Linked DNA regions of Homo sapiens. The protein of the gene in region 2 interacts with the protein of the main gene of each other region in a pairwise test. Each region holds a gene or a part of one and is shown on either strand. Other genes may lie near its edges.

Region 1 (8,697 bases), on a different chromosome or scaffold from region 2:
GAGCGAGACTATTTCAAAAAAAATGAAATTCTTTGTGACTTTTGTTCTCAACTTAGTAACTTTAATGTGATTTGACCCCTTCCAGTGGAAAAGGAAATAAACCAATAACCTTACACCAATAACCCCACCTTTTCCTTCACATCTGTCTCCCAACTTTTGTCATGTTATACCTGTATTGTACTTACTTCGCCAAGGTATTTATTTGCATTGTTCTATATCCATAATTCCCAGTTGTTTTAGCTTTAGATTTACACTTAAATGGTTTAGTATTCCTCACAAGATCTTTGTACCAAGCAATTATTTTTAATTTATTCAAGGGTTTTATTATAGGAAGCAGACAAGAAAAAATAGAACTTACTTCACTTGTTTAGTAAATGAATAGCAAAGCAAGAGTAAGCATCAGAGTAAAGTTTATCTTTGGGTGCCTCCTGGTCAACTTCCTAACTAACCAAAATGTCTTTCTCTCAGGTGCTGTGACATGTATATGGATGAATGAACAGTGTAGCAGTATCATCACAGGAGGGGAAGACAGACAAATTATATTCTGGAAATTGCAGTATTAAGTGCCTTTTCCTCTCCTGAATATTAAATTGAACTCTATTTAATGCATTTTTAAACCAAACTTTTAAACGGACTGGTGAATGTGCAATGTTAGTAATTAGAAGTTTTACCACATGGAAAATTTGTGGTTTTAAACTTTCTAAATCATGGTGACTTCATTGAAAGCCATTAGTTGCTATTCTCTTAGGGCAGATAAAATGCGGCTGTGTTAGGAAAAACATGTTACACTGTAAGGCAGATGATCGTCCCCGTATGATGATTGTCAGAAGACAGGACTAAGTAGCAGAGAATAGCTAAGAGATAAATTGGGCTGGGGAAACTTGTCAGAAAGCACTGAACAATTAAGAAATTTTCCAAGAAAATGTGCAGTATTCTCTGCTACTTCTGAATCTGTTTTGTCTTCCTAATCTATCACAATTGCCACCCATCGGGTTTTGGGTGTGTGTTTTCATAGCGTGGTTACTTTCTATAATGCTGTACCCAGATTCTAAGAACCTGGAGAAGGATTAGCAGTTCTTAGTAAGTTTACTGTGTATAGGAACGGTTTGTATTTCATTACAGCTATTCATCTTTTCTACATTAAAAATATTTTTCTCTAAAGAAAGCTGTTTTCACTTTATTTAAGTAACTTAAAAGACTAGTGTTTTTAAGACCACAAGTCTAGAATCATCTTCTAGAAAACCATATTTAGTGATATGAATGTAATTCCATTATTTTGAAATTATCTTCAGACTCAGGTAGATAATCAAATATTTTTTTCTCTTCTAAATTTCAAACAAGGTAAGCTGTATAGCAGTAGCAGATTTCCTTTTATATTCAACCTCTGAACCATGGTAAGTGTGTGACTTATTATTTTTTCTATACTCTTTAAAAACATTGTTGTATCTTGCAGGTAGTATGACATAGGAGAAAAAACTTGAGTCAGACCACACTAATAGAATTTCCAAAGTCAGTTTCAGTGTTATTAAATATTACCTGGTCTCAGGTATTGCTAGGGACAATCAGTAGCCTCAATGAGTTCCTGCTGCATGGCAGGTGTGAACCAGCTCTTCTTTTGGCCCTGGTAATCTGGGGTTCCCAGCTGGAAGCAATTTTCCTGACACTCAGTCTCAGCACTGAGAGCTGTTCTTAGGGCCCCTGAATGTCAGCTTGTTCTGGGAGATGATGTCTCCCACAGCTGAAAGTGAATTTCACCTGCCTGTCTTCTAGATCATGCATAAGTTTGGTGAAAGCAAATGATGCAGTAATAGACAGACTAAAATGTAACTTTATTTATACATATTTAATTAGAATAGACATAAACCAAAAAGAAGAAAAAAATCAGGATAAAGTGTCAACTATCATTTTGTTTGCAAGGAGGAGTCAGGAAAAGGAACAAGTTATCAGAAAAATATTCTAAGACCATCCCAAAGTAGCTAGGTTACATAATCTTAAGAGTCAAATGCCAAAATTAAGTATTATACCACTTAATCCACAAATGAACAAAAGGGGAGTCAAAAGTTTATCCTGTTTAGTGTAATAACTTTTACATCACATATAGTGATTCACTTCTTAAAAGTGGCACTGGCAACTTTTAGAAGAAAGAAGTTTCCATTATGTGTTGACTAAAAAATCTCAAAAACAACTAAGCAGCTATGCTATAGCTCAGTAAGTACCATTAAACTGTTCTGGGCTAGTGTACATTTCAGGTTAATAGAGAACTACATTTTGGGTTTTTAGAAAGGCAGCAATAATTATATTTTGGCTTTTAGTCTAGATGCTTAACATAGTTAAGGCGACAGTTCAAGCATATTAAGTGAAGGTAGTTAAAATTTAAGAATCATCACAATCTCTTGAAACCTACATACACTGTTTAATGCTTACATGGAATGAAACCAGTGTTCTTAATTGGCATTTTACACACACACACACAGAATTTAAAAAAAAAATCAAAGGCAATCATTCTAAATGTACTATGATAGCATGTTAAAGATGCAAGTATGCTATAGAACTAAAGTAATATGAACAGCACTACTCATTACCTAGGAGAAAGGTGACTGGTTTTCACACAAAGCTAAGCCTGTAACAGTCATCCTAATCACAATGGCTTATAAAAGCATCAGGTTTCCAGTAGAGAAACTATTCTAGGAAAGTCAGTAAATCTCTTGAAAGTTTCACATCTGTAAAACCAGGATAAGGCTACAACTATTTTGAAATCTGAACAAGGTATCAGATGAAAGAGTAAGATTCCCAGCCATAATGTAAGATAGAAAGGTCCTCATGCAGCATATGCTCGCTGGCTCCGGGAAGGCTTCACGTGCATAATACAGAAGTTGCCAAAGAAGGAAACTGGAGACGTTCAGCTACATTTCCATGGTGCCGTGAATTTTAAACCTCAGGAATGGTGTGGTCCATTAGGCTTTTCATAATGCTTGGTGCCATCCTACAAGAGAGGTACTTTTATTATATACCGAGATTCTGGTTTTTGTTTTTCAAAATGCTACATTAATCCAAGAAAATTCCCAATTCCAATTTAGCACCTGTTAGCATCAAATATGAATGGAGAGAAGGGAAAGATCTTTTAAATGAGTCCAGAAGCATCTCTGGTAATCTAGTTGTTGACAGACACTCAGTGGGAAAGACTATCTGTATTTGGCTAGAGAAGTTAGGATACAAATGAATTCCTGTGCATTAAACATGGTGATTTTTAAAAAACAGAAAGAAAATGACAAGGCTGTGATGAGTTGGGGTAGAGGGATCCATCAGTGATTTAAGAAAAGAGAACCCTAGAAAAATTAGTCATGACAATAACTCCTTTTTACCCCCTCCAAGGGTAGCTAGGTGCATTCTATCCAGAAGCCAACACAAAAATTTCATTACAATGGTTATGTTTATGAATCTTTTAAATCTCATTTTCACATGCATAATAGAGCTTCTGAAAGGATTCCAAGCTGGCTTGACAAAAACAGCTATGGTAGATGCTAGGATATGAAAAGCTCTATAGAAGGAACCTTGTTGCCTCTTTTCAGTTCTGATCACTTGGCTTTCTAATCCTCAGTTCCTGAGCACAGATAGCACCAACACACCACACTTGTCTATCTGCCTCTTGAGATTCTGGAGAGAAGGGAAACTTACTCTTAGCATTCCACCAGCAAGAATTCTCCATTACGAACCACCACAACTATATTTATACTGAGCAGAGGGGTGGTAGGCAGTGCAACTGCAGTCAATTGCACTGCAAATTGAAAGCTGAAAGCATGCCCACTTCTCCTTGCATACCTTTTTTCTACCAGGCATTATAAAAACTGAGGAAAGTATATGTGAATTTTATTCCGTACTTGGGAAGTTGTAAGAGCTCATCCTTACCAACCCTCTGATTTAAATAACTTACTTCAAATTTCTAGATAAAACACCAGTATCCATTCCTTGGGTAAAAGAACCAAAGGGCTGAGAATTAAAGTATAGTGCTTATATTAAGTCACATGACCATATGCATTAAGTTGAGGAATTGTTTACTTACCGCTTAATAATATGTTCAAAGATAAAAGCAGGCATGATTGTAATAGTAACTACAGTCCCAGATGTTGACAGTATGTCTGCAATTTGAGAGTCCTGATAAAAACACATATTAAAAATTAATTCCACAGAGGCTTTATTTAATAAATACAAAACTATGCCAGTCTTGGTAAAGAAATACAAAATATATGTCTTGGTATTTCTAATTTTTTCTAGTATTTCTTACCAAGTTTAATTGTACACTATTTTACAGCTAGTAACCAAATTGCTTAAGTAAACTGAGTTGAATATTTTAACCAAAAAAAAACTTTTCCTTTCTGAATATTAGATAATTTTCCCCATATACAATATTACCATCTCCTCTTATTAACTGTGTATTCTAAATCAAATTCTATGAAATGAGGAGGTCATGCTTAAAACTTTTTGACCTTAAGACAGACTTATTTAGGAATTTGTGGAGGAGAAAAACTATAAAAATAAAGTATTAATATGAACCAAAACTATTATTCATTTCCTTATATTCCTGGATTGAGAAATGCTGGGCCACTATTCATATTCTAAATCTTTGTTGCCCATATTTCCACAGAATTCTAGTGTGAGGTACTTCTGAGATCATTTATTCCAGCCCACTTGTTATAGGAACTGTAGTTCTAGATGACAGCCCAAATAATTCCGGTGACTGGCCAGACCAAGAGTTCAGGCCCCACGTTCCCCATCTCCCACCTAAGTCAATATGAAAACAGCGCCACCTAAATACAGTCAAAAGACAGACATTTTCTAAAACTGCAGCAGAACATGGCACAAAGTCTGTTCCTTACCTTCAATCCAATGACATTCTGTCCATTGATTTCACAGATGTTATGTTCCGTGAGAAGACCATTTCTGGCTGCAGAGCTATCTTTCACTATGGATGTTATTTTTCCATTTTTAAAGATAAAACCAACATGTCCAGTGCTATCCTTATGCATGGTAATCGTCCGTTCAAAGGGCCTACAAACATAATTGGTTCAATTAAAAACTTAATTCTAAGCTAAACATTTTAATGGATTTCATATAGCATAAATGTTGCCATATTGGATACTTTTATAATAAACACTGTTTCTAATAAGAGCAACTTATGGCTCTGATTTTATACATTCACGGAACATCTTTGTGTAAAAGTTTTTTTTAAGTTTATTCATTATGGTTTGACTGATTTACTAATCAACATTTCCTTCTTTAAGTATAAAAGACAACTGCTTTATATGGTTTTATCAATATGTTTTTCTTTTATAATTAGACTTTACAGCATTAAGAATGACATAGGCTTTTTAACTAAATCACAGTGGTAAAGATAATTTTTATTTTTTATTAACTTTTGGTATTTTCTAGAGCCAAATCATTTTTAGGACTATTTCTTTTATTTAAAACCTTTAAAATATTTCTCACATCTTGATTTTGAAAATTTTATACATTGCTATCTTTGAAAAGAAAAACTAGAGCAGCAGTAAGACTTAAGTTCCTCAAGCCCCTTTGGAAAGGGAGGCATGCAGCTATTATTAAAAGGCATCCAGCTGTCCCTCTAGAGTTGTTATAGCAGTCACATTTGCTTGATTCTCTATAAACTCTGTTATCATGTTATCATAAGGGTTTTAGGATCAACTTGTGTTTACATTATTAAATTCAGAAGAGGCATTTCTTCCTGTTAGTACAACTTACTCTTTGAAACTCTGCTTAGATAGAAAGTAAAAAGGACATTCATCTGAAACATTTACGAAATACCTAAACTGAATGAGAAACTGGAAACACAAAGATAAAACAGAAGTTTCACTGAGAAGGAACAAAAACTCAAAGCTTACTGTAACAATGCAATATACGTCTACCCTTAATTGGGTATGGAGTAGACAAGAAAATAAATGGAGGCCCCTATTTCATGTGCTAAATGTTTAAGTTCTAAATGAATGAGCTGCTAAATAGAATATTCCATGTTCTTGAAAACTACTGCTTCATAACTACCCAAAAGTCTTGATACGGTTTTCAGAACTCCCATACTACTTGGAAGTCTGCATGGGCTCTGACCCTCACAATGAGGGACCACTGTGTGTGAACACCCTAGGCTGGATGTATCTAAGCAGTAAGTTGGAAAGTGAGCCCAGAGATGCCCTGCAACTCAGTTACTTCTCCAACATACGTTTTCTATTTTCTAGAGAGATTTGTCCTATAAACTCTGAAATAAGGTATCGTATCAGAATGCTTTAAAAACAATGTAAGAAAAATCTGCACCACACAACTGCAAGACTATAAGGCTCATCAATAACATTTGATCATTTTCTGCAACAAAATAATATACTCACAAACTCTGAAAGCCCAAAAAAATGGAAAACTAGTATTGAATTTTCATTTGAGCTGTTTAGTAACAGCTTACCTGTCACGAATGGTCATGGTAATCTTCTCTCCAAAAGCCTGTTTGAGCACCTTGTGCGCTTTATCAGAGCTCCATCCTGCACAGTTTTCACCATTGATCTGAAGTACTTGGTCCCCAAATCTCAGACCAACCAATGAGGCTGGAGAATTAGCCTGGACTAGCTGAACAAATATACCCTAGATAATAAGAAAATAATTTTTGTCATTTACCACTACTATGATACGGTTTTAAACGCTGGAAAATTAGGAAACAACTGTTTATGTTGAAAACTCTACCCCAGTGACAAAAAAGAAAGAAAAAGAAAAAAAGGAAAAACTATATGAGTATATTAAGTTATCACCTCAAAAGAAACTGAAAAATTTATCAAGACAGCAACTCCAAAGAATAAGGCAAAAAAGTGAGATTTCAATGGCAATTTCTATACCAAATCATGACCCACCTGACCAACCACAATCCCCCCCTTCAACTTGGAATACAAAACTAAGGAAAATACAGTAGGACAACTTTAATAAATGCAAGCGTCTGAGTCTGATAGAATACCAAATTATCAGTACATAATCATATTTAGGGGAAAAGCGAGTCACATGTTAGAAAGTTTGATGAGTTCTTTTACAGCTTAATAAATGACAGTTTAAGGTCATAATTCTACCTTTTGAGCTGAAGCATTCCTTTACCCATTTGCTAAATTGTGTATAATCAAGTAAGATTAAAGTTTATTTGTTAGACTAAAAAGATGGGCATATTAAATCCACATGCACAGGCTTATAAAGAACACACAATGAAATAAATACAGAAAACTCAAATACTGTTAACCAATAACTACACTCACATGGATATTTTTACTTATGTAAAATCTCAATCAGAAGTTGAACAAAATATAAATAGGTAAGTATAAAAGAAGAATAAGCCTGGTAAAATATAAGTGCATCTACTTCTACAATCCTAAGCTAGGTCACATATTTCTATCACACATCTGTTACATTGTAGAATGATAAGCAAGAACTAGGTAGCACCCCATAAATGAACAAATGCCCTTTGGCCAAGTGAACAAATCCACTGCAACTATTACCTACAGTGGGGCCAAGGGGCCTATGAAAAGTATCTTTTCTCTTTAGGACAGAGGAAAGAACACAAGAGCAATCCTGGCGGAAGGAGCAGCAGTATACTCTATTCCCTGAAGATTCTGGAGAAAGGGCAGCAAAGTCAGAGCATCCCAACTAAGCACGCAGATGTATTTTGAGTGACATACAAGTGAGCAAGGCCATCATCGATGGCCTCAGCCCCCTGGGTGGGCAGGCAGGGCGGGGGCCTCCTGCCAAGATCAGCCTCCTCCATTTACAGCAGTGCACCACACTTATAATTTTCTATGTGGAAAGGCTGGATGCACTAAGCTAGAGATGTATGACTGAAACCGAATCCAATAAGGTAATGGCTAAAACTATAAATTGGGGTAAAGACTCAACATGTCCTTCACAATTATAAATGGTTCCTCAGAGAGTAACCCTGTTTCATATCTTCAGTATGTTAAGGTGAGAGGTAATTATAAAGTAAAGGCTGCCCTAATTAGAAAGAATATTCCATCTTTTTTTACTCAGAAAATGACATATTAAATTCAAATGTGAAGGATGTTAATAACAAATCTGCAAAAACCATCTCACCAGTTAAATACTGATCATTTGGTTTAAAAATGCACACACATCCGGGAGGCAGAGGTTGCAGTGAGTCAAGATCACACCACTGCACTGCAGCCTGGCGACAGAACGAGACTCCGTCTCAAAAAAAAAAAAAAAAAGGCACACTGACATTGACTCTCATTGGAAAGTTTTTTCTTAACCTTCACATCTGCTCTATTTAATTGCCACAATTCTATTATACAAACTATAATATATGTAGGCCAGTGAAATGTATTCCAGTTAGAATATTCAGAAAAGAAACATCTTTCAAAGTAATGTGGTCAGAAGTCCCAACTATGCCTCTGCAAAATAGAACATCCCCAATTGAAAACATTTAAGTTAGTAGATTTAAAATATTCTCAACTACAGATGCACTATTATAATTAAAGCATTTCCATTTCAAATTATTTTAACATTAATCACTTATTATGTAAGAGATTTAGACAAATTCAAATAGGTATTTAAAATACTTACATTATCTATTGATTTAAGCCTGAGTCCAATTTTTCCATCTTGATCCTTACACAAAATGACTTCACGAATCCCTTGCTTAATTTCTGCTCT
Region 2 (10,166 bases):
TGAGATGCAGTCTGGCTCTGTTGCCCAGGCTGTAGTGCAGTGGCACAGTCTCAGCTCATTGCAACTTCCGCCTCCCGGGTTCATGCAAGTCTCCTGCCTCAGCCTCCCAAGTAGCTGGGATTACAGGCATGCACCACCACGCCCAACTAATTTTTGTATTGTTGGTAGAGACAGGGTTTCACCACGTTGGCCAGGCTGGTCTCAAACTCCTGACCTCAGGGGATCCACCCACCTCAGTCTCCCAAAGTGTTTGGATTACAGGCGTGAGCCACCACACCTGGTCCCCAAGTGTATTTTTAATAAGCTGTCCAGGTGACTCTTATGAATACTAAAATTTGAAGACCAATATCTAATTAACACAAATTAATAGAATAGATTAAATGTGTATAAGTCAAGAGAGCTGGGTGCAGTGGCTCACGCCTGTAATCCCCCAGCACTTTGGGAGGCTGAGACGGGTGGATCACCTGAGGTCAGGAGTTCAAGACCAGCCTGGCCAATATGGTGAAACCCCATCTCTACTAAAATTACAAAAATTAGCCGGGCATGATGGCGTGCGCCTGTAGTGCCAGCTACTCGGGAGGCTGAGGCAGGAGAATCGCTTGAACCCGGGAGACAGAGGTTGCAGTGAGCTAAGATCACACCACTGAATTCCAGCCTGGGCAACAGAGCGAGACTCCATCTCAAAAAGAAAAAAAAAAAGTCAAGAGAATAGTGACAAGTACCTAACACATGAAAAAAAGGATGAAAAAAACAAAAAAGCCAGGCGTAGTGTTATATGCCTATAGTCTCAGCTACTCGGAAGGCTGAAGTGAGAGGATCACTTGAGCCCGGGAGATGGAAGTTCTACTGAGCCGAGATGGTGCCACTGCACCCCAGCCTGAGTGACAGAACAGGACCCGTCTCAAAAAGAAAAGAAAAGAAGAAAGTACTTAAAATGTTGGCACACTATACTCTCAAGAACTCAAAGTGATGTTTGAAACTTGTGCATTTGATTTTGATGTTGAAAAAACTAAATGTGTAAATATGCAAGCCATTCTAATGTCTGTGAAAAACACAGAGTATGATTTGTAAAGAACTCTTAATTAAATGTAAGATGGCATAGTATCAAGAGCATATGGTATTGCACCTAGTAGATTAACAAATGTTTGCTGGTGATGTTAACTATTTTTATAATGAGTACAGTTATATTTAATTATTTCCAGCCTAACCTCTGGTAACCTAAACAAAATCAAACTTTTTGCTGTGAATATCTTTACACAAGTAACAGCATAAAAAATTGTCAAATATTATGTCAGACGCTCATGTGTAAGTTCAGGGTCAGGGCACTTACTTTCAGACCAAATTAACCTCTGTTTTTATGCTCAGACTTACATAAACAAGGATAGGTAAAACCAAAGTTAAATTTCTCATGACTAAGAACACTGCATGATAGAACATATGGAACTCAAGTTTCCCTGAAAATCACTAAAATATTTATATAACGATAGTATTTTTTTCCAATTTTTCTTAATTTTTAAAATCTTTCTTTTTTTTTAATTTTAAGAGATGAGGTCTCACTCTGTCACCAGGCTGGAGTACAGTGGTGCAATCACAACTCACTGCAGACTCAAACTCCTGGGCTCAAGCAATCCTCCCACCTCAGTCTCCTGAGTAGCTGGGGCTACAGGAACATGCCACCAGGCCTGGGTAATTTATTTGTTGATTTATTTGTGGAGAGCGGGTCTTGAACTCCTTGGCTTCAAGAGATCCTCCAGTCTCCACCCCCCAAAGTGCTGGGATTACAGGCATGATTATTATTTAGAATAATAGTCTTTATTATTCTAAGTAAAGATTCCTGAAGATGCTGAAGTATTAAATTCTCTCCCCCTTTTTTTTTTTGAGACGGAGTTTTACTCTTGTTGCCTAAGCTGGAGTGCAATGATGCGATCTCTGCTCACTGCAACCTCCGCCTCCCGGTTCAAGCAATTCTCCTGCCTCAGCCTCCCAAGTAGCTGGGATTACAGGCGTGCGCCACCACACCCGTCTAATTTTTTGAATTTTTAGTAGAGACGGGGTTTCACCATGTTGGCCAGGCTGTTCTCGAACTCCTGACCTCGTGATCCGCCCACCTCAGCCTACCAAAGTGCTGGGATTACAGGCATGAGCCACCGTGCCCGGCCTGAAGTATTAAATTCTAACTCATAATTTTACTTCAGTGAGGTAAGTCTACTTTGAATTGGCAGGAATAAAGGAACTTTATATAACTCTTAAAAGATCTCATTATCAGAATGAAAAATGCATCTACTTTCCCCCTAAAAAGCATCTTTCCCCTATGAACTCATAAACCCAATGAAAATGTTAAGTTCTAGTCTCTTGACTCACTTATTTAGATTAAGTCTTAATAATGCATTAGGAAACCCAATTATAGTCCATCTACCCCTAAGATGCAGCTGTTTCAACATTTCCATACAGGATTCTTACACATCTATAAATGAAATAAACTATACTGGAGGAATGAAGCAGCCAATGCATGCAACAAGTTATATAGGCAATAATGTTGCTTTCAAAGGAGTTTTTGTTTTGTTTTGCTTTGTTTTTCAAATGGAGTCTCACTTTGTTGCCCAGGCTGGAGTGCAATGACACCATCTCTGCTCACTGCAACCTCCGCCTCCCGGGTTCAAGCGATTCTCCTGCCTCAGCCTCCCGAGTGGCTGGGATTACAGGCCCGCGCCACCACACCCGGCTAATTTTTGTATTTTTAGTAGAGACGGGGTTTCACCACGTTGGCCACGATGGTCTCGAACTCCTGAGCTCAAGTGATCCGCCCGCCTCAGCCTCCCAAAGCGCTGGGATTACAGGCGTGAGCCACCGCACCCGGCCGAAAGGAGATTTTTCATCTGTTATCAACAACTGGCTTGATACATAAAGATCCAGAAGCATCTTAAGTTTTCTTCGTCACTTTTTCATTTCACAGCTTATGTTTTAAAAGTCAGAAATCCCAGAATTAAGTAAAGTCTTAAAGCAAGCTAGTGGTAAGATAGAGCTGTACGGACTTCTTCATCAAGGACTTCCATATCTTTCCAACAAGAAACGAACCAATATTCATCATTAAGCACCAGCTCCCAATTTCCCAACTTCCTAGATACCATTCCTATGCTATATGTAACCCTTCTTCACACAACGTCAGACTTACCCACACATACACCATCAGTCCCCAAGTCTCCCACATTGGCACAAAAGCCTCTCAACATTCATCTGGTTACTAATCAGGGACCACTTCCTTCTTCCACTGATTCTGCACAGGCTTCATATCGCCTACAATCGCTTTTTCCATTTCTTCCACAACACTAACTACTCAAAGCGACAAAAGAACAAGTCCCTTTTCCCCAATCGTAAACAGCTTTTTAAAACTCTATACACCTCCTTCCCACTCAACCCCTTTTCTTAGTGTCTATCCGCCTTTGTTATTCAGAAGGTGTAGGGTCTGGGAAAATCTCACTCACCTCATGCTATAGGCACCAGCACCCAGTTCCTGGCCGATCCCGGACAGGCTAGCATCAAAGTCCTGCACCAACCCGGATTCAATCACTTCGTCGGCCAGAGGCAGCTTCAGAGCCCAGGCCATCCTGGCTCCTTCCTTGCCCCAGGAGACACCGTGTCTTGTACAAAGGCGCGGAGGGTAATTCTACCCAACAGGAGTAACGCAAACCAAGAAAACTACAAACCAAGGTTTCCCACGCAGTGCCCACCAGCCACCCCCAAGCCCGACCAGCACTGCTCTGTGCACAACTAATCTCCCGTACCCTTGGCTGCTCGTTCTTGGCTGCCCCAGGTTCCAAAATCCCCCCTGCCCAGCTCTCAGGAACGTGAGGACCCCTTTGCTCAACTACTGCAGACTTCCCAGAGGCAGCTCTGGACTCCCGCACTCCCACTCCTCTTGAGAGTTCGTAGTGGTGGCTTGCTGCTTCCCAGTCAGACCAGCAGCAGCCGCAGGAAGCCAGCCCGGCGCTCCCACGCTGCTTTTGCACCTTTTCCCCCGCCCCTTTCTGCTGGAGGCCCCCTCCCTCCCAGGTCTCGCTCTCTCTTTCCCCTCCAGGCCTCGCTTCCGGTCAGTCCCACGATCACTTCCGGTCACCCCTTCTCAACCCCACGGCTTAGAACCAAATCCAGGTTTCCGCTGAGCCGACTTCTCGCCCTCTGTAGCCCCCCACGGCCTGGAAACATGGAAGGAGAAAGTCCAGCACAGGCGTAAAACCTAGACTCGCCAGGCCCTTCCACCGTCCGCCGCCCCAGCGCCAACCAATCATGGCGTCCTCTTTCCTCGCCTGCCCGGCGAACATGACGTCACGCTGTCGTTCGCCTATAAAGAAGAGACCGCGTCAGTCTCGGCAGCGATGATAGGCGGGCTGCGCCACGGCTCTGCCCCCGAGATGGGCTGGGCGATCACGGGGAGGACCCGGCGTGCAAGTGTCCGGGTTTAAACGTGTATCCGTGTAGTTACCAGAGTTCTGGTATTCGCTACCCATCAAGTCGTCACCCTGAGCCATGGAAGGAGCCCTTCTTCTAGCCTTATGAACCCACTCCACCCCTGGCGGACTCTTGACGGCTTCCCAAACGCTCCTTACGTGTGTGCGCTTGCTCCTGCCCATACTCCTGTCTCCTTAAACTCACCTCTCCGGAGGTCAAGACCCTGCATAAGTCCCACTTCCCTGTATATTCATTTTATCTTCGGCATCCTCTCTAATGCATTTGAACAGAAAAGCATGAGATCAGTAAAAATGTGGTTTTTAGGCCGGGCGCGGTGGCTCACGCCTGTAATCCCAGCACTTTGGGAGGCCGAGGCGGGCGGATCACCTGAGGTCGGGAGTTCAAGACCAGCCTGACCAACATGGAGAAACCCCGTCTCTACTAAAAATACAAAAATTAGCTAGGTGTGGTGGCGCGGGCCTGTAATCCCAGCTACTCGGGAGGCTGAGGCAGGAGAATCTCTTGAACCCAGGAGGCGGAGGTTGCAGTGAGCCGAGATCGCGCCATTGCACTCCAGCCTGGGCAACAAAAGTGAAACTCCGTCTCAAAAAAAAAAAAAAAAAAAAAAAAAAAAAAAAAAAAAACAGTGGTTTTTAAAAGGTTGTTGTGCTGGTATGGGGTGTTGGAATTTAAAAGATCTGAAAATCAGAGTTTAGGCTGGCGTCTTCATTTGCTACTTTGGTGTCTTCAGAACAATTGCTTAATGTCACAGATTTAGCTTCCTCGTTTGTAAACGGGAGTGGGAGTAACTTTATCTGCTCCACCTTCCTCCTTTGAGGATTGAGTAATAATGGCCATTGTTTATTAAGTATCAACTACTGCTAGGAACTTTATTACACTATGAGTAGTCCTCAAAGCGATCTTGGAATTAGAATTATAAAGCTAAATTTAATGACTCTTATTTTATCAGTAAGAAACCAAGGCTAAGCCCTTAAATTGGCCGGAGCTAAATTGACATGCCAGCTTCAGAGCTGATTCCAAAGCCTGGCATTTTTCGTTACAAGACATTGCCTTTATGTGAAAGTCTTGGTTCATTGTTGTATTCCGTTGCTGAATTTTTTAAAATCTGCCTTGACTTATACTTTTGTATATATCTGCCTCTCTCACTAGATTGATCTAAAGAATAAGGAATAGGTCTTTTTCAGGCTTGCGTTCTAAATATCTCCTACTATAGTTCCTGCTTTCAACAGGACTTTTAAACATGTTTATTGAATTTAAAAAGGAATGAAAAAGGAATAAGAGAACCAAGAAAAAGAGAGAAGTTGACATGAAGATGGCAACATGTTGTGCTGGTATGGGGTGTTTCAGCCACAGGCATCTCTCTGAAGGCTCCAGGCTTAAACCTGCCGTCTTACCTTGGTAAGCCCTAGGATCAAAGTCTTAGCTCATTCTGGAGACATTCAGTATCTCTTTAAGCCATCTTTTCTTCCCATGAGCCAGTTCTATCTCAAAATGTGTGACTGTGGATAAAGGAATGGGTCCTGGGCTCATAGACAAAAAGAGAGATGTCACATGGAGATCTGAGGGCTCAAAGTTTTTGGGTTTTGTTTTTGTTTTTGAGATAGAGTCTTGGTCTCTCGAACAGGCTGGAGTGCAGTGGCGCAATCTCAGCTCACTGCAACCTCCATCTCCCAGGTTCAAGCAATTCTCCTGCCTCAGCCTCCCGAGTAGCTGGGATTACAGGTGTGTACCACCACACCCGGCTAATTTTTGTATTTTTAGTAGCGACGGGGTTTCACCATGTTGGCCAGGCTGGTTCTGAACTGACCTCAAATGATCCACCTGGCGCAGCCTCCCAAAGTGCTGGGATTACAGGCGTGAGCCACCGTGCCCGGTGGTCAAAATCCTTTGTAAACCAGCATTGTACTTAGGGTATTTTTAAACCTCTCTTAGATAGAGCCATGCCTTGTTTGACCATCAGCTCCATCTCTAGCTGTGTAATCTCAGGCAAGTAACTTTACATCTCTGAGCCTCAGTATTTTAATGCATAAATTAGTGAAAATAATACCTCCCCCTAAAATTGTTGTGAGTATTTTTTTTTTGAGACGGAGTCTCGCTCTGTCACCCAGGCTGGAGTGCTGGAGTGCAGTGGCGCGATCTCAGCTCACTGCAAGCTCCGCCTCCCGGGTTCACACCATTCTCCTGCCTCAGCCTCTCCGAGTAGCTGGGATTACAGGCGCCCGCCACCATGCCCAGCTAATTTTTTTAATATTTTTAGTAGAGATGGGGTTTCACCGTGGTCTCCATCTCCTGACCTCGTGATCCGCCCGCCTCGGCCTCCCAAAATGCTGGGATTACAAGCGTGAGCCACCGCGCCCAGCCTGTTGTGAGTATTAAATAAGGTACCAAAATGCCGCAAAAATAGTAATGATTCAATAAATGTTATCTCCAGTCTCCCACTGGTAGTACACTTCTGCTTCTCTGTTAAGATTGGGTTGATTTTGTTATCCTATTTTAATAACATTAATTTACATTGTATAGTATGTTATGGGCTTGGGATTTTTTTGTTTCTTTTAGAGACAGGGTCTCCCTCTGTCACCCAGACTGGAGTGCAGTGGCCTGATCATAGCTCACTGTAACCTTAAACTCCTGGGCTCAAGCAATCCTCTTGCCTCTGCCTCCCAAGTAGCTGGGACTACAGGTGCACACCACTATGCCCTTTGAGACTGAGTCGCGCTGTGTTGCCAGGCTGTAGTCAGTGGTGCGATCTGCAACCTCTGCCTCCTGGGTTCAAGCGATTCTTATGCCTCGGCCTCCCAAGTAGCTGGGACTACAGGCACATGCCATCACGCCCAGCTAATTTTTGTATTTTTAGTAGAGACAGGGTTTCACCATGTTGGCCAGGATGGTCTTGATCTCTTGATCTGCGCGCCTCGGTCTCCCAAAGTACTGGGATTACAGGCATGAGCCACAGTGCCCGGCCATGTTTTCTTTTTTTAAGTTTTGGTTTTGGTGTTTTTGAGACAGGGTCTCACTCTGTTGCCCAGGCTGGAATGCAGTGGCATGATCACAGCTCATTGCATCTTGCACCTCCCAGGCTCAAGCAATTCTCCTACCTAAGCCTTCCGAGTAGCTGGGACTAAAGGCATACACCACGACACTCAGCTAATTTTTTATTTTTAGTAGAAATGGAATCTTACTATGTTGCCCAAGTGAGTGTCAAACTCCTGGGCTCAAGCGATCCTCCCACCTCAGCCCCCCAAAGTACTGGGATTACCGTGGCATGAGCCACGGTACCGAGACTGTTATGGTTTTAATAGCATTTATTTATTTATTTATTTATTTATTTATTCATTTATGAGACGGAGTCTCCCTCTGTCGCCCAGGCTGCAGTGTAGTGACGCGATCTCGGCTCACTGCAACCTCCGCCTTCTGGGTTCAAGCAATTTTCCTGCCTCAGCCTCCCGAGTAGCTGGGACTACAGGCACACGCCACCATGCCTGGCTAATTTTTATATTTTTAGTTGAGACGGGGTTTCCATGTTGGCCAGGCTGGTCTTGAACTCCTGACCTCATGAGATCTGCCTGCCTCTGCCTCTCAAAGTGCTGGAATTACAGGTATGAGCCACTGTGTCAGCCACCGTGTCCAGCCTTAATAGCACTTTAAAATACATTGTCTTGGCCTGGCACCATGGTTCATACCTGTAATCTCAGCATTTTGGGAGGCTGAGGCAGGAGGATCACTTGAGCCCAGGAGTTAAAGATCAGCCTAGGCAATATAGTGAGACCCCCTTCTCTACAAGAAATTTAAAAATTAGGCATGGTGGTGTGCACCTGTAGTCCCAGCTACTCAGGAGGCTGAGGTGGGAGGATGGTTTGAGCCCAGGAGTTCGAGGCTACAGTGAGCCATGATTGGGCCTTTACACCCAGCCTGGACAACAGAGCAAGACACTGTCTCTATTAAAAATAAATAAATCAAATACATCATATCATTTAATCTTCATAGAAGTTTTTGTTTTGTTTTTCAATATGAGGAAGCTGAGACTCAGGACAGAGTGGTCAGGATCAAGCAGAACTCTTTAAAAATTATCCTGAAAATTATTTTGTGATTCAGCAACTCCTTTCTACATATATACCCTAGAGAAACTCTTCTACATACATACCAGGAGACTTGTATGAGAATGTTGATGGCAGCACTCTTTTTGGTAACAAAATGGAATAAAAAAATTCTCCACCAGCAAAAGAATGGATAAATTAGACTGGAATATAATATTATTGAGCAGTGAAAATGAATAAAGCTATACTGAACTGCATGAATAAATCAATCTTAGAATTGAGGGGGAAATTCAGAAGTCCTCATACTGTGTAATATCACCTTATAAAGCTCAAAAGCCAGTAAAATTAAGCAATTATCATTTAGGACAGTATGCAGTTGACCTTTCAACAGCACAGGTTTGAACTGCACAGGTCTACTTATTTGTGGGTTTTCTTTTTTTTTTTAATTTTTCATTTTTGTTGTTTGTTGATATCTTCTAATATTCATGGATTGTCTTTCACCTCTGACACTCCTGAGAGATTAAGACCAACCCCTCCTCTTCCTCCTCCTCTTCAGCCTACTCAATGTGAAGATGAGGAGGAAAGACCTTTTTGATGATCCATTTCCATTTAATGAATAGTAAGTATATTTCCTCTTCCTTGTGATTTTTAAAATATTTTCTTTTCTCTAGCCTACTTTATTGTAAGAATACAATATATAATACATAAAACATAAAATATATGTCCATTGACTATGTTATCAGTAAGCTTTCGGATCAACAGTAGGCTGTTAGTAATAAAGTTTTAGGTGAGTCAGAAGTTACACTTGAACCTTCAACTGTGTGGGGATCACCCTCACATTGTTTAAGGGTCAACTTTACATAAGTCCTTTCAAAAGAAATGAAATAAATACAATTATAGTGATGGCCACATCTAAGGAGAGGCAGGGGAATAGGTGAGGGAAGGAACTAGAAAATAGCTTCAGCGTGGCCAGGCACCGTGGCTCACACCTGTAATCCCAGCACTTTGGGAGGCTGAGGTGGGCGGATCACATGAGGTCAGGAGTTTCACACCAGCCTGACCAACATGGAGAAACCCAGTCTCTACTAAAAATACAAAACTTAGCTGGGAGTGGTGGTGCGTGCCTATAATCCCAGCTACTTGGGAGGCTGAGGCAGGAGAATCTCTTGAACCCAGCAGGCAGAGGTCACAGTGAGCCAAGATCAGGCCACTGCACTCCAGCCTGGAAGACAGAGTGAGACTCCGTCTCAAAAAAAAGAAAAGAAAAGAAAAGAAAATAGCTTCAGGCTAGGCGTGGTGGCTCACACCTGTAATCCCAGCACTTTGGGAGGCCAAGGAGGGCAGATCACCTGAGATCGGGAGTTTGAGACCAGCCTGACCAACATGGAGAAACCCCATCTCTATTAAAAATACAAAATTAGCCGGGTGTGGTGGAATGCGGCTGTAATCCCAGCTACTCAGGAGGCTGAGGCAGGAGAATAGCTTAAACCCAGGACGCAGAGGTTGCAATGAGCTGAGATCACACCATTGCACTTCTGCCTGGATAACAAGAGGAGCGATACTCTGTCTCAAAAAAAAAAAACAGATAAAAAGAAAAAGAAAAAAAGATAGCTTCAACAGTTCTTTTTTTTTTTTTTTTTTTTTTTTTGAGACAGAGTCTCACTC
Region 3 (4,174 bases), on a different chromosome or scaffold from region 2:
CCATGATAGGGTCGGGATTGGCTGGCTCTGGAGGCGCAGGTGGTCCTTCTTCTACTGTCACATGGTGCGCGCTGTTTTCTAATCACGTGGCTGCCACCCAGGTAAGAAGAGGCCGCTCTTCCTGGGGTTGTTTCTCCGTGTGACGTGTGGCCTTTGAGATCAACTCTCCTGTACCAGCGTAGGCCGCATGAGTGGGGGGCGGGCTCCCGCGGTCCTGCTCGGCGGAGTGGTGAGTGACCGGCCCCGCCCCGCCCCTTCCGGTCCTCGAAGCCTCGACCGCTACCCGCACCCTAAATCCCAGAGGTTGGCCCCCTGAGGTGTGAGTGAAATGAGCTTTTGCTTTATTTTCCAAGTTTCTCTCTCACCTTCAGGGGCATTCTTCGGGGGTGCATCAGAGGGAGGGCAGAGCCTGAGGATCTAAGCGAAGGCTTCCCCGGGTGTAATTTCCTGGGCTGTTTGTGAGGAGAGATCGAATTCGCCTCCTGCTCTCAGGCCTCTCTGCTCCTGTCTTTTGTTTGGATGCCGGCGCTGCTGCCTGTGGCCTCCCGCCTTTTGTTGCTACCCCGAGTCTTGCTGACCATGGCCTCTGGAAGCCCTCCGACCCAGCCCTCGCCGGCCTCGGATTCCGGCTCTGGCTACGTTCCGGGCTCGGTCTCTGCAGCCTTTGTTACTTGCCCCAACGAGAAGGTCGCCAAGGAGATCGCCAGGTAGGGACCTCGATGTGCAGCGAGAAAGGATGATCATGAAGGGACAGTTGGGGGTGGGGCAGAAGAGTGCTGCTTTCTCCTTTCTCCAGCTCTGGAAGCCTGTCTCTGGGCTGCCAGTACAAAAACTGGGGTTATGGGGTACTCTGAATGGGACTGTCTCTTCACTCCAGGGCCGTGGTGGAGAAGCGCCTAGCAGCCTGCGTCAACCTCATCCCTCAGATTACATCCATGTGAGTCATAGGAGTTGGGGGGTTAACCTAACTGTAGGAGCTGACTGGGAACCTCTTTCCTGGGGGAAATTCTTTGCTCCCCACAACTCTCCCCCTCTGACCTTTCAGCTATGAGTGGAAAGGGAAGATCGAGGAAGACAGTGAGGTGCTGATGGTGAGAAACATTTCCCCCACCCAACAAAATATCCCCAATCCCTGACCCCTTTAGCCCTTACCCCTCTTCTGAGAAACTGAACTCAATCCCACTCCTTGATTCAACCATGTTTATCTTTGTCCCTTAGATGATTAAAACCCAAAGTTCCTTGGTCCCAGCTTTGACAGATTTTGTTCGGTGAGAACTTTGAGATGGATGGGGTGAGGGTGTGTACTGTGTGGGTGTGACTTGCTGGGCAGTCTAGGGCTTGCGTGTAAGGGAGTGGGTTCTTTTGGGTAAATCTTTGAGTGATCCCCTTCCCCCACCCACCTATTTTGTAGTTCTGTGCACCCTTACGAAGTGGCCGAGGTAATTGCATTGCCTGTGGAACAGGGGAACTTTCCGTACCTGCAGTGGGTGCGCCAGGTCACAGAGTCAGTTTCTGACTCTATCACAGTCCTGCCATGATGAGCCCTGTTCCTGCTCATCATGAAGATCCCCGCGATACTTCAACGCCTTCTGACTTCCAGGTGATGACTGGGCCCCCAATAAATCCCGTCTTTGGGTCTCTCTGCCTTTTGCCTGTTTTTTGTCATGTATGCAAATTTGTTGGGAGAATATAAGTGCTTCTAGTCCCTGTATTCTCTACATCTTTCAGAATGACTCAGAGCTGCTAGATTTGTTTATTTCTCTTTATTTCAATCATACAGAGTCCGGGATCCCTTATCATCCTCCCTCCTCAGTCTCTGCCCCCAGGGGTTAAATAATTTTAAAAAATATTTAAAAAGCTGTAACAAAATAACATCAAAGGAAATGGGAAGGATGGGAGGGGTCAGGAATCATGAAGGAGGGTAGAGAAGAGGGCCTCTTCCCCACTCCCCACTCTTGGATTCCAGCCTGGGCAGTAGGGAGAACTACCCCCTATCTCTCCAGGTACATCCCAGCTGTAGGTGAGGTCAGAGGTCAGGGTATGAAAGTGCCGGTGTGTGTGAATGGGGAGCTGGGCAGAGGCAGGCTGTTCAGAAGATGCCCCCTCCTCCCCACTCAACCAGGTACTGCACAGAGCCATCAGGCCGTACTCTCCGAGCAAGGACCCGGACAGGGTCCCCTCGGGACAGGTAACCAACCCCACCTCGGACTCCTCCCCCAGTCCCAGGAGACAAACTACGGCACAGGGGAGAAGGGGGTGCTGAGCGTCTAGGAAGACCTGGGGATGGGGATGAAACTGAGGAAGATGAGGCAGTCATCGAGTGGGGGGCACTTTTAGGGATGTCTGTGGGGAAACCAATGTGAAGTTCCAGGGGTGACCTAGGGAGAGAAGGCAATTGTAAGAAATGGGCAGAAATGGAGAGCACATGTGAATCAGAGAAACAGTGTTAGAGACTAAGAGCCTTGAGCACATAGAGGGGAAGAAGAGCATCACTGGTAATAGAAGACAGAATCTCACCTGTCTGGGGGTCCACTGTCCCCAGAGGTCCCTGCGGTGCTGGCAGAAGGGTGGAAGGAAGCAAACATCCGGATGGGGCTGCTGGGGTTGGAGTGGGGAAAGTCAGGACCTGAAGCAGGGGAACAGGACCTTCTCCCCCTGGGAAGTGCAGAGCTCAAACACTACCCCCAAGGGACTCCCTTCCCCAGAATACTGGCTACCAGACACTAGTTCTAGAAGTCGGTCTAGGCCAAGAAGTGGGTAGCCAAGGGGGAGAGGGAAAAGAATTCTGGGTGATAAAGTCCAGAAGATGTGAATAATTGGGAGCATATTTTGTGGGGGAGGGGCAGAGGAGCACTGACCTGGGCAGGCAGCGGGCATCTGTGGGCCGGAAGTTGTAGCCGCTGCTGCCCTGGTAACTCTGGTTAGGGCTGGGGGATGGTGGAGACACTGAGGCCTAGAAGAGGGGGCAAAGGACTGAGAGATAATCCTTGACTCCTTCCCACACCCCACCATTTGCTCCATCGGGTTCCCCCTGCTCCAGTACCTGCAGTGCCCTCTGCAGATGAGCCCGCTCCCTCTGCTCCTGGGGCTCGGGCTGATTGCGCACTGCTGAGGGTGGCCCCAGCTCCTCCACTTTCCCCTTCTGCCTCCTCCTCAGGGGCTCTGGCTCCGGCCTCCGGCGCTTCCCCAGGGGACGTGAGACCCCTCCCCCAGGGCCCTGCCCTGAAGGGAAGCTGTAAGAGGCCTCCTTATCCCCCCAGCCCCCTCCCGGACACCCCCAAGACCTCCCCATCTCTATACATATACCCCCCAGGACTAACACCCTGAGAATTTCCCCCATCCCCCCTGGACCAGTGACCTGGTGAGTGCTCCATCTCCAGTAGGGGGCTCCACAGGGGGAGGCATCCGAGCATGGAGACCAAACAAACATTTCCTCTTCTTAATCTCTCTCCCTGAAATGAAACTGGGGCAAGAAGAGAAATGATATAGGGTCAGTGCTGTAAAAAACGGTTCCTCCTTACGCCATTCCTCAATCCTTTTCAGTCACAGTCTTCCAGGTGGGTTGCAAGCCCCTCCCCTTCCAGGCTTCCACTCTCCATCTCTTTCCGAGCCTCATCCTTGCCTCCTCTTCCCTCCAACTCACCGGTCCTTGTGGCTGTTAAGAGCAGAGAGGAGCCTGGAAGAACGTTCTCCTTTGGGGGTGTCTGAAAGCTGGGAGAAATGAAGAAAAATGGGGCCAGGGGAGCAGTGATTTCTTCTCTTCCCCTTTCCGCTACATCTCCCTGTCCCATCCCAACCCCCAAAACTGCACTACCCCTTACCTCCCCCAGGAGCAAACTGTCCCAATTCTCAGAAGTGAAGGGGAGGATCTCACGATCAAAATCAAAGTATTTCTTCTTACAGCAAACACTGAGGTGATACAGGACAAGATGGGCCACATCCACCCTGGAAAAACAAAGTTTTCAAGACCACAGAGGCATTTTAAGAGCCAGGGGAGTCCTGAGGTGGGAGGTTGGGGCATATAGAGTGAAATACTGTGGTGTGGAGTTACACTGAGGTCATGCCCAATCCAGCTCACCAGCGAAGCTGTAGTCTCCGGACTTTCTCAGGGCCCCCGCGACACACACAGCATTCAAATTCATAGAACCTGGACATGGGCAAGAGGGAGCAAACA
Region 4 (8,605 bases), on a different chromosome or scaffold from region 2:
GGCTGAGTTTCTAAACATTCTAAGACTCAGTGCAAAATTTTGGCTATATTTGATTATGTAACATTTTTGGTAAGGGAGAGAAGTTTCATAGCTTTAATCACATATTGGTAGGAATCTGCCACCACAGAACAGAGAAGGACCACGGATAGGGAGTTCCTAGAGTTATAGTAAATAGATATCTGCTCTTTTGAGTCATGTAAGGAAATTAAATTTAATGAAGATATTTCTTTTTCTTTCTTTCCTTTGCCCTAATTCCTGTTATGATGAATTTAATGTATTTTGAGTCATTTTGCTAAACCTTACATAAATGAACAATATAGAAAATATTTTGGTCTACCTGGACTCACAGTTCAGCAGAAGGGTGCCATAGTGATAACGGTACAGCAGGGTATTTCTGAAGGGCAAGTGAAAAGGCAGAAAACAGCATGCAGTAAGAGCACTCTTTATCCTAGAGCCCACGCTGGGCCTCACCAGCTGGCTTATCATTCTAGATGCCAATAGATGTGGCATAAAGAAGGTCAGCTGCCAAACATCATGGAAAAGCCAGAGAATCCTTGCAGGATGTTTAAATTCTTTATGTAAGTTGACAAAGGATGAGGACATACAAGAGGAGGGTGAGTCAGTGACACATATGAGTTACACTCTCAGATGATCCAATGCCTAGTTTACATACCTCCTCTCAACAGCTGTTTTTATTGGCTACTTCAGAGAAATTCATAATGAATCTCATGAGTTCTGCCAAATATATGAAATTCTGGCAGAGGCAGTAAGGGGAAACATGCTACCCATTTGGCATTTGCCTTAGGGATAATGTTTGATGGTCATCATGTATTTTTTTGTCACATCTTTGCCCTGTCCATAATAAGACTTACAGACTTATATCTAAATGCTGGAATCCATTTTAACCTTCTTAAAAAATATATGGACCATCAGGTCAAGTGTTTTTCAGATCCTTCCTGTGAAACTTATTTCTAAATTGTTTAATTTCTTTTCAGAAAATGTTTTCAAATGAACATCTTTTGCAAATGTATTTCTCAACTTAAGCTCATATCCCTCTTTCTTTGGCTCCCACCTTTTGAGAGCCTTTGATAACTTTATAATTAAAATCCTATCAATACAACTCATGTGAAGTAATAGGATCCTAGGCCAGGTATAAGTGTTGCAGGCTTTCTCAATATTTGGCAAATATAGAGTATCATACACAGTTGGATTCCTTTGCAAATAAAATATTTTATATTTAGAGATTACACGTGGGGGCAGAGCTAATGTGTTACTTGACTCCATTATATTTGTATTTATTTTTTCAATTAATAAATTATAAATTTCCCAACTTTGTGTAGAAAAACAAATTAATTTTGATTAAAAATAAAATAAAAACAAATTACATTTTAATAAAGAGGATTCACCTAAATTCTAGGCCCCAAGTCAAATATTTCAAAAGAAGTCTCTTAGTATGGTTTTTAGGTGTAAAACAAACACAGCCTTTGCAGAAAGGCTTATTAGAGCAGTGAAGAATCTGCTTAATGTTTTTTAAGTAATTTTACTAAAACTTACAGAAATGAACAATTGGGCTTGGTCTTTACTACTTCAAATGAGATAACTAAAGTAAATCACAAGATTAAACACTGGACACAGGATTTGTAGAATTCTGGATGTAGATATGGCTTCGGCAAAATAGGAGGAATAAGTTCTAGTGTTTTACAGCATAATAGGGTGACTATAATGAACAATAATTTATTGTATATTTTTAAATAGCTAGAGGAAAGGATTTTGAATATTCTCAGCACAAAAAAATGATAAATGTTTAAGGTAATGGATATGCTAATTACCCTGATTTGATCATTACACATTGTATACATGAATCAAAATATCACACTGCTAGCCTGGGCAACATAGAGAGACCATGTCTCTACAAAAAAAAATTTAAAAATTAGGCTGGCATGGTGACAGGCATCTATAGTCCCAGTTACTCAAGAGGCTGAGGTGGGAGGATCCCTTGAGCCAAGGGGTTTGAGGCTGCAGTGAGCTATGATCACACCATCGCACTCCACCCTGACTGGCAGAGTGAGACCTTGTCTCAAAAAACAAACAAACAAACAGAAAACACCACACTATACTCCATAAACATGTACAATTATTGTGTGTCAATTAAAGATAAAAATAGCATAAGGTGAAGCGCACATCTGACTAAAAGATTGCATGATGTTTCTATATGATTCTAAGCAAGAATGACTTCTTTAGCATTTTTATAAACCATTCACTTGTGACTTTTCTTCCAATTTTAAAGTAAAGATTCTCCATGCAAACTAACTAGTTGTAATAATGGCAGAGAAGCATTGTCCTTGCTAACGTGGGGAGAAGAAGTGAAAGCAATATCCAGAAGCGTCATCTTCCTATATAAAAGATAATCATTTTGATCACAGACAACACAAATGGTAGCAATGTTGGGCCAGCATAACGATATTAAATCCAGTGGTCATCTCAGCTATATTTTTGTCTTCAGGAGTAAGCAAATGAATTTCCCAATATTTCATCTCCAGCTGCTCTTAGGTTGTTGTATTTGAAGCAAAATACTCTTGCAAGTAAAGTATTTAAGATTTTTGAATGTAAATGGAGTAGAAACTTAATGGTTTTAGAAACTGAATGCACAACAGAAAGAAAGAGATAAAATTATTTTATTGGTTCAAATAAACTGAAAAAAATAGACATACAAATCACTTAGTTGTAATTTTAAAGAATTCCTCAAACTAAACTTGAATTTAAGCATAAGCTTATGCTTACAGATTACTATTTGCTAGCTTACTAATTATTATTTGAATTAAGCAGTAAGAACTAAAATTTAAGTTTCTTAGTTTTACAGATTGATTTGAAGGCATGCTGTCTTGCTAATATTGAAATAAATTTATTTCTTAAAAATTATTATTTTACTGGATTATGTCAGAAGCAGGGCTGTGTTCTTGAGGAAGGACAAGTTTCTTCTCAGAATCATCAAAATGAAGCTCTCACTGTTCTGCCCTTCAGAGGTTGGGTTGGGCGGTTGTTGTGCTGCATGGGGACAGCGTTATCACCTTCAACATTTGATAGAAGGCTGCGGAATTGTGCCAGCTAGAAGGATAAAATATTTTAAAAATAAAAAGTTTTTAAAGTTACATAAAGCGTTTTATTTACAGGATTACTAACGCACTGATATTTAGAAAACTGAGTTAGAAATTGCAGTAATATCACTAATAGGAAGAGAGAAAGCCCCAAATCCTTTACATTCATTTCTTTGAACCAGGCATTTTGCTTTAATTATTGATTTAATTATTTAATTAAATCAATTAAATAAAGCAAATTTAATTATTTGCTTTATTTTATTGATTTAATTATTGATGACTGGGTTAAAGTATCAACTTTTTAATTTCAGCTGGGGTACGTTGGGCGAGCGACTTATTAGCTTGGTACCTTAGTTTCCATAAGTACTTACTTCACTGTGTTGTTGTGAAGATTAAATGGGTTAATACATGCAAAGCCCTTAGAATGATACTTGACACATAGCATGTGCTCAATAAATGTCAGTTAGCAACAGGCTACAATGCTTGTCCTGTAGGTTTGTTATGAGAATTGGCTAATAAAACATATGTAAGGCACGTAATAAACATGGTAGAGCAATGAATGATACTTACTATAATCACCATTATTAACAACAGTTAATGAGATATTTTGTTGAATATTTAAAAGTTTAAGCTCCACAAAAGGAACAAAAATATTTTGCCAACTATCAAGGTATGCCAGCTGGGAGCCACAATTCCCCAAAGTCTTATTGAAATGTCCAGTCACAGTTTTTCCTTTATTTCTGAAATGCTTAAGAAGATATTTAACAAGGTTGGACTTTTCCTTATTAAGGAGGAAAGAGTGGCGGGAGTCATTTTTTTTCTGCATAAAGGCAAAATAAAGTATTATAATGCATTTTTGGATAGTTTAATAAACCTATGTCCCCAAATTAATATTTTTAAGTTGGGAGGAAAAATGAACTTCTCACAAAGCTGACTGAAATAATAATCTCTCTCACTGATACTATCAATTAAAGTAATATTCCTGCTACGCATTCCCAGTTCCCATTCATTCACAACTCTACCTGCTCTGAGCTGACACTGATGCTCTCCTTACAGATGATCCAAGTTACACTCTCATAAAGAGGAGGATGAGTCAGAGAGCCAGGGTAGGTCCAGAAATCCAGGGATGAAGGAAGGAGAGTAGAGGGGTCAAAATTTGTGAATGGGGCTCGTTTGCCCTGGAAGAAAAGAATACATCATTACAGCATGATATAAAATACTTATATGAATATATGTGACATATATATGCTATATTATCTTGTTATACATTATTTAGAGATTTTAGCTAAGAGTCATTGATTTTTCTACTATTTAGTATTTCATGACTGGCGTGTTTGTGGATATAAACAATAATATCAACAGAAGAAAAAAAGATGAAAAATGTGTTATATGTAAGTTTTTGACCAAGACGTCTTCCTTCTTCATTTGGTTGCAGATAAGCAAAGATTCAAAAATCTTTTTTACAATCTATATCTTTAAAACATATTTAATTTCTAGTATAAAGCTTTTATTTTTTTCTCTAGGAATGATGCCAGATTCTATTTCAATGGCAAAAATCTTTATTGACATGCATATTGGTTGTTTCAGTTTTATTCTATTTATTCCTATCGTCTTTTCTGATTGTTACTGGTGTGTAGGAAATATACTGATATTTGTATGCTAATCTTTTATGCATTCTGTATTTTAGATGATTCTTCTGGAGTTTTCAGGTGGATGTTAGTGATGATATCAACTGCACATAATGATAGTTTTGTTTTTGCTCTTTCGATATCTATCATAATATGTACTCTTTCATTATTTTGTTGCACTGACTAGGACCCTTATTATAATTTTCAATTGTGATGGTCACAGTGGCACTTTTGTCTTGTCCCTGACTGAAATGTAAATGCTTCAAGTGTTTCACTATGAAGTTAAATGTTGATACAAGTTTCTAGGTAAATTCTTTATCAAATTCAATAAGTTTTCAGACAGTTTTCTTTCATTTTGTTTCATCCTAAAGAAAGGGCATTAACTTTTATCAAATGATTTTAAGCATTTAACAAGTTGATCATGAGGTTTTCTTCACCTTTAACTAGTTAATATAATGAATTAATTTAAGATTTTCTAATATTGAGTCATTCTTGTATTTTTGGGATAAACTCTACTAGTTCAGAAACTACTCTTTTAAAACACTGTTGAATTTGATTTGTTATAATAAATTTTAGGATTTCCTTTAGCTATATTCCTAAGAAAGTTTATCCTATGTTTTTTGTTTTGTTTGTCTGTTTTGTAGTTTTCATACCTGGTTTTGGTATCAGATTCCATTAAATTGATGGGAAGTTTTCTGTCTGTTCCTTCATCTGGGCACTTTAGTTAACACTGGCATGATTGTTTCTTAAAAGTTGAGTAACCCTTTTCCATGAAGTGGTCTGGGCCTAGTCTTTTTGTTTAATAGATACATTTTGACTATTGTTTAAATTTACTTTTAGGTTCTCAGTCTATTTAGGTATTCTAACTCCTTTTGAGTCAATTCCCTTATTTCACATTTTCTTGGAAAATTATCCATTTTATCTAAATTTTCAAATTTACTGGCATAATGTTATAAAAAATTTTGTCTCTTAAAATTTTCTTCTATATCTTTAGTCACAACCTATTTATTTCTAATAATGTTTTATATGTACGGCTTTTTTTCTCTTTATCCAGCTTCCCCAAAGTCTGACTTTTTTGTTGTTCTTCCAAAGAATCAACTTTTCAATTTATTGATAAAATTTTACCCCTTACTTAGCCATCATTTTTCTTTTCAAAATTTATTTATTTATTTATTTATTTAAGATGGAGTCTCACTCTTTTACCCAGGCTGGAGTGCAGTGGCACAATCTCGGCTCACTGCAACCTCCACCTCCTGGGTTCAAGCGATTCTCCTGGCTCAATCTCCTGATTAGCTAGGACTACATGTGTGCGCCACCACGCCCAGCTAATTTTTTGTATTTTTAGTAGAGATGGGATTTCACTATGTTGGCCAGGCTGGTCTTGAACTCCTGACCTCAAGCAATCTACCCGCCTCGGCCTCCCAAAGTGCAGTGATTACAGGCATGAGCCACCACACCCGGCCATCATTTTTCTTTCTTATTTTATTCTTTTCTGCTTTTATCTTCACTAATTATTTCCTTATATTTTCTTTTCATATTTTTTTGATAACTCTTGAGTTGAGGGCTTATTTTTTATCTCTGTCATTTATACTTTATAAGACAATCATTTAAGTTTAATCTTTTCTAGAATCAGCATAAATCAGATTCATTTTACACAAATATATGACAGTTCTCCATGCTGCAAAACATGACAAATCTCTGATTTATGGTTTAACTGCTTACCTTTAAAACAATAAAGCTAAGTTTGTATATATCAAAAAATCCATTTTTTTTGAGTTGACAAGAGTTATGGTTATCAAAGATTGTATATCAACCATATCTCAAAAGAATGCCCTTTACTTCTGAATTTTTCTACTGCTAAAAAACTAGAGATATCTTTATTTATCAAATGGAAAATCACAATTTTGTTAGATATAGTTTTTCAAGCAAATTTAAATGGCTATGTAATCTGGTTTTCTACAGGCCATATTCTGCTGAAATAAATAAACCATAACTATGAAAAACAGAAAACCAAAACAATTCCCTGCATTAGAGACTTTCTCAGAGGTAGGCAGTATTGAAGTAGCACCTTGATTTTCAGTTGGTAGCTTTTACTATGGCCTTCCTACTCCCCAGTTTTAATACTTCATTAAATGATTTCCATAGATCTGTAAATTCTTGTTCTCTGATTTAAACTACTTATTTAGTGTGTTTACCTTGGTTTTAATTGCTTGGAGGGCATCAAGTACTTTCTGCAGCTTTGGGTTGGCCTCACCAACCTGGAGATTTAAGAAAATAAAGTATGAGATAAAGATTATTATCAATCGAACACTGCTTAGCTAAATTTTGAATTTTTTTTCAATTAACAACTGACAAGAGGTAAGGTATTTTCTCTCTGCTTTAGAAGGGGAGATTTTTCAAGCTGTATGTCTTTGAGGGCCTTTGTACTCTATAAATTGTTTATAATATGTACCTACAGATAAAAGTAGCAAACAAAAAGTTTGATTTAAACTTAATTATTGGCAATATGTTCAAAGTTATACAGGGCAAAATCTAGTAATTTATCAAAACTGACACAAAAACAAATCTCTTATTTTGGTCTGTTATATTAGTTTTCATTACTACAGTATTTGGCATATTGTAAGTGCTCAGTAAAGGTTAAGTAGAAGTGCTATAATTTCAAGAGTTACTTGGTTACCCGGGCATACCCAATTTAATAATAACTTTTTCATAGAACTTTTCAGGGATTCTTCTATAGAGGATTTGAGCAACATCTCCCATTTAAAAAATCAATTGAATATTCTTTGTAAGAAAAAATTCTCTTACTATTTCTTTCCTAATGAGATATTAAATTGATAAATTTCTGAATCTATGATTTCAGGTTTCCTTATTAATATTTAATAATATTTCTTTCCTGATGAGACATTAAATTAATAAATTTCAGAATCTATGATGTAGGAAATTTAGAGGAAAGGGAATTTGGAAGAGCTGGAAAATAGAAATTCCTTTTTCCCTGTGAACACATTTCTATCTCACCTCCACCTGAAACTCATTTCTCTCTTTAAGAGGGAAAAGCAGAGATAAAACCAAGCAATAAAATACTAGGGAACTATTTGTTCACCTGTAGTCATCGGTTAAATGGAAACTTTAAAATAAGAAATTCTAAAATATATGTTGCCTTATTTCCTTCTATTTTGAGGTCTAATTGGTAAGACAGTGGAAGCAGAGCTGTGTAATTATCTGTAACTCACCTTCATCAAAACACCAATAACTGCCAAACCATCAGCCTTTGAGGCAGCTTCAGCAAGGCTGGAGTACTTTGCAGAATTCCAGTGAGCTACGTGAAGCTAAAAATGATACTATGGTTAATTAATTATTTATACCAGTGTGATGAAAAAAGATAAGTTATAAGTTAACTTGTTACCATATGATGATGTATCTTGGCTTAGATACATAAAACTTATGTGAACCTTTATCCAGTGGATTAGAAGAGTTACATTCTCACTCGTAGGAAGGGTTATCTGTGTGCCAGGTAGAGATTACAAAACCTGGAACCAGTAAGCAAAATGTCCTTTCCTACGATATTGTTATTTAATATTACTCCTTTAAATGTATCTCTCTTTGTTTTGAAAAGATCAGGAAATATGACTAACTAGTTTTTGGGAAAATAATTGAAGTAATTTTCTCTCACATGAGGTACTTTATAGTAAATTTATGAGAAAGGGTTCCTGGAGTTCCTGGGAGTCTTGGCCAAGAACAGATTCTTTCAGGCACGTTCGTGCCCTTTCCAAACATCTCTCAAATAAATATCTCCAGCTTAACGTCTCTGCAAACTCTAGATTTGTACATCCAAGTATGTATATATGTATTCTTGATATATTCTTGATATCTCTACATGGATGT

Evidence for each region.
Region 1: the proteins of TFCP2 (region 2) and SDCBP interact in binary tests that used the Homo sapiens proteins (3 or more experiments, as listed by UniProt).
Region 3: the proteins of TFCP2 (region 2) and PHF1 interact in binary tests that used the Homo sapiens proteins (3 or more experiments, as listed by UniProt).
Region 4: the proteins of TFCP2 (region 2) and CA1 interact in binary tests that used the Homo sapiens proteins (3 or more experiments, as listed by UniProt).

Annotation. Positions count from the first base shown.
Region 1 is NC_000008.11:58,575,972-58,584,668, reverse strand, and holds the end of SDCBP (syntenin-1), read right to left. Parts: coding exon 8,608-8,697; intron 6,637-8,607; coding exon 6,461-6,636; intron 5,047-6,460; coding exon 4,875-5,046; intron 4,153-4,874; coding exon 4,061-4,152; intron 2,984-4,060; coding exon 2,929-2,983; 3' UTR 1,811-2,928; downstream 1-1,810. Other genes in the region: NSMAF (protein FAN), read left to right, coding at 469-563. UniProt on the Homo sapiens protein: Multifunctional adapter protein involved in diverse array of functions including trafficking of transmembrane proteins, neuro and immunomodulation, exosome biogenesis, and tumorigenesis.
Region 2 is NC_000012.12:51,168,819-51,178,984, forward strand, and holds the start of TFCP2 (alpha-globin transcription factor CP2), read right to left. Parts: upstream 4,318-10,166; 5' UTR 3,605-4,317; coding exon 3,483-3,604; intron 1-3,482.
Region 3 is NC_000006.12:33,414,014-33,418,187, reverse strand, and holds the end of PHF1 (PHD finger protein 1), read right to left. Parts: intron 4,148-4,174; coding exon 4,079-4,147; intron 3,946-4,078; coding exon 3,822-3,945; intron 3,712-3,821; coding exon 3,644-3,711; intron 3,464-3,643; coding exon 3,359-3,463; intron 3,234-3,358; coding exon 3,044-3,233; intron 2,974-3,043; coding exon of another isoform or gene 2,954-2,973; coding exon 2,859-2,953; intron 2,599-2,858; coding exon 2,518-2,598; intron 2,379-2,517; coding exon 2,090-2,378; 3' UTR 1,749-2,089; downstream 1-1,748. Other genes in the region: protein CutA isoform 3 precursor, read left to right, coding at 188-229, 493-707, 878-937, 1,046-1,091, 1,219-1,268, 1,412-1,538. UniProt on the Homo sapiens protein: Polycomb group (PcG) that specifically binds histone H3 trimethylated at 'Lys-36' (H3K36me3) and recruits the PRC2 complex. Involved in DNA damage response and is recruited at double-strand breaks (DSBs).
Region 4 is NC_000008.11:85,325,572-85,334,176, forward strand, and holds the end of CA1 (carbonic anhydrase 1), read right to left. Parts: intron 8,050-8,605; coding exon 7,954-8,049; intron 6,982-7,953; coding exon 6,919-6,981; intron 4,274-6,918; coding exon 4,118-4,273; intron 3,106-4,117; coding exon 2,989-3,105; 3' UTR 2,037-2,988; downstream 1-2,036. UniProt on the Homo sapiens protein: Catalyzes the reversible hydration of carbon dioxide. Can hydrate cyanamide to urea.